Linked DNA regions of Homo sapiens: region 1 is linked to region 2. Evidence: fine-mapped expression QTL. A gene starts in region 2. The other region holds a variant in brackets. All regions are shown on one strand. Distances are between the middles of the regions. Region 1 holds the start of SEC16B (SEC16 homolog B, endoplasmic reticulum export factor). Region 2 holds the start of CRYZL2P-SEC16B (CRYZL2P-SEC16B readthrough).

Region 1 (2,909 bases), 69 kb after region 2:
TTAACTTGTCTCTTTGGGAAGGAAAAGATAATATTGATCTGCAGGGCATACTTACCTATATATCATGTGCTGCTTTACCAACATTTCAGCCCCGTAATGACCCTCATAAGCTAAGCATTGCCATTCCCATTTTAAAGAAAAAGAAACTGAAACTCGGAGAGGTTAAGTAACAGAACCAGCTAGTGGTAGAGCCCCGAGTTAACACCCCAAAGGTGGTGCTTTTCTCGCCAGACCAGGCTGCCTTGGGGCTTCTGGACTTCCTCTTCCTGATGTCTCTCTTCCGTGATTGCTGTGGGAATTTGGATGATTTCTCATGTGAGTGAACCTGGCTCAGCCCATGCTCAGGCAAACAGAAGCGCCAGTCTCTGACAGGGTTCTGAGCAAATTCGTCAAGTCAGGCGGGTCCTGGGCTGCGGTATCTGGGCTGTACTTTGCCCTAATGAATCAGCTCCATGGAGGTTGGGCAGTTGCAAAGGTAACTGACATGATGTAGATCTGAGGGCCTGGGGAGTCTTGGTAGATGTGGCACCTGGACTTTGACAGTCTCCAAGAGGAGAGGAGGCACTCTTGGGCCAGGTCCCTGGAGCAGCGCTGAAGGAAGGTGGGAAGCCATCAGAGCAGGTGTGTGGGAACACTCGCTCCCTTCTTTCCCCTCTTTGAGCTGGACGTGCTGTGCCGTCAGATTAGGAAAGGCAAGATTGCCTTTACTGGGGCTAGGAAAGGTCATCTACATGAATGTGTGAGTCTGATTTGTCATCATAGATGTAATTCCTTCATTTTGAGAATCGAAGGTGTTATTTATTTGGTGTCCTTAATCTGAGGACTGATTTGCTGGAGTTGATGTCTCTTGGCAGCAAAATGATGTGATTTCAGTGGAAAGATTGGGTGTTGCACCTTTGCAGTTGGGAAAGGGCTGCCTAATGAGACTATCTGGGGACAAGGAGAAAGCAGGTTTCTTCTCATTCTGCTTACTTGGTCCAAATGGTTTTGAGTTCCACCAGCCTTCAGAAAAGGCTCATGTGCCCTTCCCTGTGTCTGGGACATTTGGCCTTTCCTGGGATTTGCTGGCAAAGGCTGTCATTGCACCTGGCTTTTTCAAGGGAGTGAGATGATATGGGAAGGAAGCCAGAGGTTCCCCTGAGTTGTGAGTGACCTTGAGGTGGGAGGCCCCCTCCGCACCTTGTTCTTCTTGTGTGTTCTGC[C/T]GTCTCATAGCTCTTGGCTCATAGCTGTCGACCTCGGCTCCCTGGTGTTTGAGCAGAGTGACGTCTCAATTTCAACACCCACTCTTTTGACCTTTTGTTCTGATATGAATTTTTATATGAGGCTGGGACCTTCAGTAGTGGAAACAAGTTAACTGATTTGATCAGAATCTTGCAACCTAAAACAGTTCCTAAGGAAGAAAAAAATCGAGGCCGACCTAGCCTGTGGATGCTCCTGACACAAGGAATCCCTGAGCAAGAGTAAGATCTGAGGCGTGCTTTCCTTTTGTGGGTGCAACCCCTGTCCCCCGCTACCCCGTGCAATGGGCAGAGGAACCTGGAAGGTAATCAGTCCTTGGAGCAATTTCCCTTTTTCAGGATTACGTGGGGGAAAATTAGTTTGATGCTAGGGAGACTTTCAGCATTTAAAATCTCCAACCGGGAAGAATCCTGAGATATGGCCTTCTATTTTCTTATGAAAACAATCCCAAATTTGCCTCTTGTTGGCTCCTCTGGAGGAGGAGCAGGTATGACCATATTATATAGGTTCTAGTTCTTTGAGGGGGTTAATGTAAGGATTCAGAAAAGGTGCTTCTTGAAAAGGTCAGTCTAAATTTCTTTTTGTTTAATAAACATCTTCAGCCACTCATACTACCCTAATCTTTATCCTTGATAACACTGCTATTTATTGAGCATTTTAACATGTTAGGTAACATGTTACGCACTTCGCATAGGTTATCTTTAACTCTGTCAATAACCTTGCAAGGTAGTCCTTACAGTCTCCATTTCATGGGTAAGGAAATTGAGGCTTGAAAAAATGAACTAGCTAGTTAAGTGGCAGAGTTAGGATTTGAACTCTGATCTAGCTCTCTGCAAGACCCACTCTGTTTATGATACCACAGGGCCTCCGCTGTAAGTGTTAAATAAACACTTGCTGGGGGAATATGTGAAGAAACATCAACTGGGATTCCTTGATAGCATTTTTAGCTGTACCTATTATTGTTATCTGTCTCCCTTGCCTCCCTCATCTGTCGTTGTTCCACATGTACTTTTTAATTTTTTAAGCAATATTAATATAATTGTCTAGTCTGTTATTTGCTTCATGTATCTGAGATTGTTTCTCAGATTTCTCTGTATCCGTGACCATATGGTTTGTTTTAGATATATTTCGAGGACCATAGCTGCTCTTTTCACAAAACCTAATCAACCACTATGTTTGGATATAGGCTTCAAGTGATGATTTTTTCCTTTTTCTTTTGTCTGCAGGAAGATAAAATAACTGCACAACTTACTCAAAACCCAGGACAAATTCAGAGAGTCAAGGATGGAACTTTGGGCTCCCCAGAGGCTGCCCCAGACACGAGGGAAGGCCACAGCACCCTCAAAGGATCCAGACCGAGGGTTTCGGAGAGATGGACATCATCGGCCTGTCCCTCACTCTTGGCACAATGGAGAGAGGTTTCACCAATGGCAAGACAACCGTGGGAGCCCCCAGCCACAGCAGGAGCCCAGGGCAGACCATCAGCAGCAGCCCCATTATGCATCCAGGCCAGGGGACTGGCATCAGCCTGTGTCTGGAGTTGACTATTACGAAGGTGGTTATCGCAATCAGTTGTATTCAAGGTATGGCTTTAGGGCTTGGAATGAATGCAACTCTCCTAAATGCGTATGAATAGGTTGTTCTTTTCCTTCTTCCTTTTCCTTTTATTT
Region 2 (2,909 bases):
GGTCCTGCAAATGTGAGAAAATTAGTAACAAGAATTGAACTCTAACAAGGTGTTCAAATGCTGACTTTAAAGCCTTCACCTAGGCAGGTGTGGTGGCTCACACTTGTAATCCTAGCACTTTGGAAGGCTGAGGCGGGCAGGGCGCTTGAGGCCAGGAGTTCGAGACCAGCCTGGGCAAAATGATGAAACCCGTCTTTAAAAAAATACAAAAATTAGCCAGATATGGTGGCGCACAACTATAGTACCAGCTACATGGGAGGCTGAGGCGGGAGGATGGTTTGACCCTAAGTGGCGGAGGTTGCAGTGAGCCGAAATAGTGCCACTACACTCCAGCCTGGGTGACAGAGAAGGACACTGTCTCAAAAATAAATACATAAATAAAGCCTTTACCTGTGCATTTAGGATTTTTTGCACTGGCAGAGGACCCAATAACCTTTATCTATGTATCATCTGTCTGTCTGTCTATCTATCTAATCGATAGAGAAGGTCTCACTCTGTCACTCAGGGTGGTGCGATCATAGTTCACCGCAGCCTCCAACTCCTGCACTCAAGCGACCCTCCCGCCTCAGCCTCCTGAGTAGCTGAGACCACAGACACTGGCCACCACCCGCCTTGGCCTCCAAAAGTGCTGGGATTACAGGCGTTAACCACCCAGCCAAGAACCACTATTTAAATGTCGCCAAGTGTGGTTTAAAAAGTTTCCCAATTTTGAGGGGGGCAAGGGTTGAAAAACTATTAGGTACTATGTTCAGCACCGAAGTGACGAGATGATTCGTACCCTGAACCTTAGCATCACACAATATACCCAGGTCACATCTGCACATGTAGCCCCTGAATCTAAAATAAAAGTTGAAACTACAAAAAAAAAAAGTCTCCCAAATTTGTTATAAAAATGCCAAAGAAGGTTAATCTCGGGTAATCGAATTCCGTTTCCTGGTGTTTTCCTTTATTCTTTTTTTCTTCCAGCCGGCTCCACCTCCAGAGAGGCCCAACAGGGAGCTCGCGCGGTCGTTTGGTCTCGGCGGCCGTAGAAGCCGGGCGCACTGGACCGGAGCTGCCCCGCCGGGGTTGGGTCGTGGCTGCCAGGGCGCGTCGCCAGGAGGCCTCGCGGGCCGCCCTTCCGCTCTCCCGGGGCTGGGCGGCGCTGTCCGGCTCTTCCTGCCGCGCTCTGGCCACTCCCCCTCGCCCCTCGCTGGGCTTGGCCTTGGCGGCCGTGCTCTGCAGGCAGTGCCTCCCTCGGGCGTGGGTCTGCAGGTGCAACCCCGACTCCTCCCTGAGCCCCGCAAGGCAGTCCCAGGGTGCTCCCGGCGGGGCTGCCCGACTGACCCTTCCCTTGTTTTGTGTTGCAGGAGAGCCGGACAGGGCAGCGGCCGGCACTACCGCGCTGCGATTTGCGCAGAGCTGAAGAAGCCCCTGACCATTGAAGAGGTGGCCCCCGCCCCGTCGGGCCTCACGAGGTAGGGGGCTGGCTTATCCCCTTCTACCCTCCCCTTCTCCCCGCCACCACACACTCCCCGCAGGCTTCCTTCTTGAATCAAGTTCCCAGTTCTGAAGCGAGGGGGCGACCGAGAGAGTGGAGGGCAACTTCGTCCTGGGATAGCTAGGGGGCTGAAGCCCTTTCCAAGGTCTAAAGTGCTAAAGGAAGATTGTTCCCCCAAAACACGCCTATAGGCCTCTTTCTCAATGCTCAGAGCTGTTGCCTTAGAAACAGAGAATTCTGATTTGCACACGACTTTGTATGTGCAAGTTATTGGTTTAACACAGGTACATGGACCTCATCCTTTGCTTCCTTCCACCTCAGTGCCGGAATCGAATTATTCGGCCTCTGCCTCCCTGAAACCAGCCCGGTAACCTCCGTGTTTCCATGTGAACATACGCCTCTGGTATATTGCAGACATTTGGGATGGGGTTCGTTTAGGGATGTGGGCAGCTGGTCCACTGAAATGTGGACATCATTTTGGCCTTGCCTATTGACCACTCTAGTAACACAGTGTCATCTGGTGTGGAGATGAGAACCTCAGACAGCGTGAAGCAGATAGTGGGCCTCAGTGTTGGAGACCTTCAGGGAGAGGGAGAAAGGCAGCCATAGCCCTGAAGTGTTACCAGCATGGAGCCTGTTAACTAACATGGCTAACACGGATTATTTGAATGAGCACATGATGGCAGCCAATCTACTTCCTGGGATTCACATGCTGAACGACATTCATCCTCAAATCATCCTTAAATCTAGGTGGAGTGGCTGGAGAACACATGTGTGCCCTGTGCATGCCTGTCAATAACTGATGTGTCCTGCATGGAATGTGTCCAGGCTGAGGGCTAGGCTCCTTTGTTCTGTTATTTGTCCTAGACATTGCATTGTAAGGAATTAGCCCATGAGAGCTGTGACTATGTTTGTTTTACTCACTACTAAATCCCTTAAGTCTAAAATGGTTCCTGGCATGTGGCAGAGGCTTAAAAAATTGTTGAATGAATGAATTTTGTAGATAAAAATTTCTTCTCACCAATATGGCCACCTCTGTACAAACAAATCAATATCATCCCTTTGGTGTCTCAGCTTTCATTTCTTCCAGTAATTCCAACCCCTGTTGGGATGTGTTGGTTTATGACAGTGGTTGTCTAGCACAGCGGTCCGCAACCTTTTTGGCACCAGTTCTGTGGAAGACAGTTTTTCCATGGACTGATGGGGGTTGGAGGGGATGGTTTTGGAATGAAACTGTTCCACCGCAGATCCTCAGGCATTAGATTCTCATAAGGAGTGCGCAACCTGGATCCCTTGCCTGTGTAGTTCACAATACGGTTCGCACTTCTGTGAGAATCTGATGCCGCCACTGATCTGACGGGAGGCAGAGCTGGGCGGTATGCTTGCTTTGTCTGCTCACCTCTTGCTGTGCAGCTGGATTCCTGACAGC

What was found.
Region 1: its variant is fine-mapped to the expression of CRYZL2P-SEC16B in tibial nerve (GTEx, PIP above 0.99). The same link has a PIP of 0.9 or more in atrial appendage.

The regions. Positions count from the first base shown.
Region 1 is chr1:177,967,596-177,970,504 of GRCh38, reverse strand. It overlaps CRYZL2P-SEC16B (CRYZL2P-SEC16B readthrough), which reads left to right. Exons shown (of 32, transcript NM_001356506.2): 8 at 2,466-2,822. The coding sequence starts at 2,524. SEC16B (SEC16 homolog B, endoplasmic reticulum export factor) reads left to right here and starts at 447. Exons shown (of 26, transcript NM_033127.4): 1 at 447-621; 2 at 2,466-2,822. The coding sequence starts at 2,524. The variant C/T (reference allele first, on the strand shown) is at 1,203.
Region 2 is chr1:178,036,242-178,039,150 of GRCh38, reverse strand. It overlaps CRYZL2P-SEC16B (CRYZL2P-SEC16B readthrough), which reads left to right and starts at 1,175. Exons shown (of 32, transcript NM_001356506.2): 1 at 1,175-1,254; 2 at 1,350-1,457. It also overlaps the pseudogene CRYZL2P.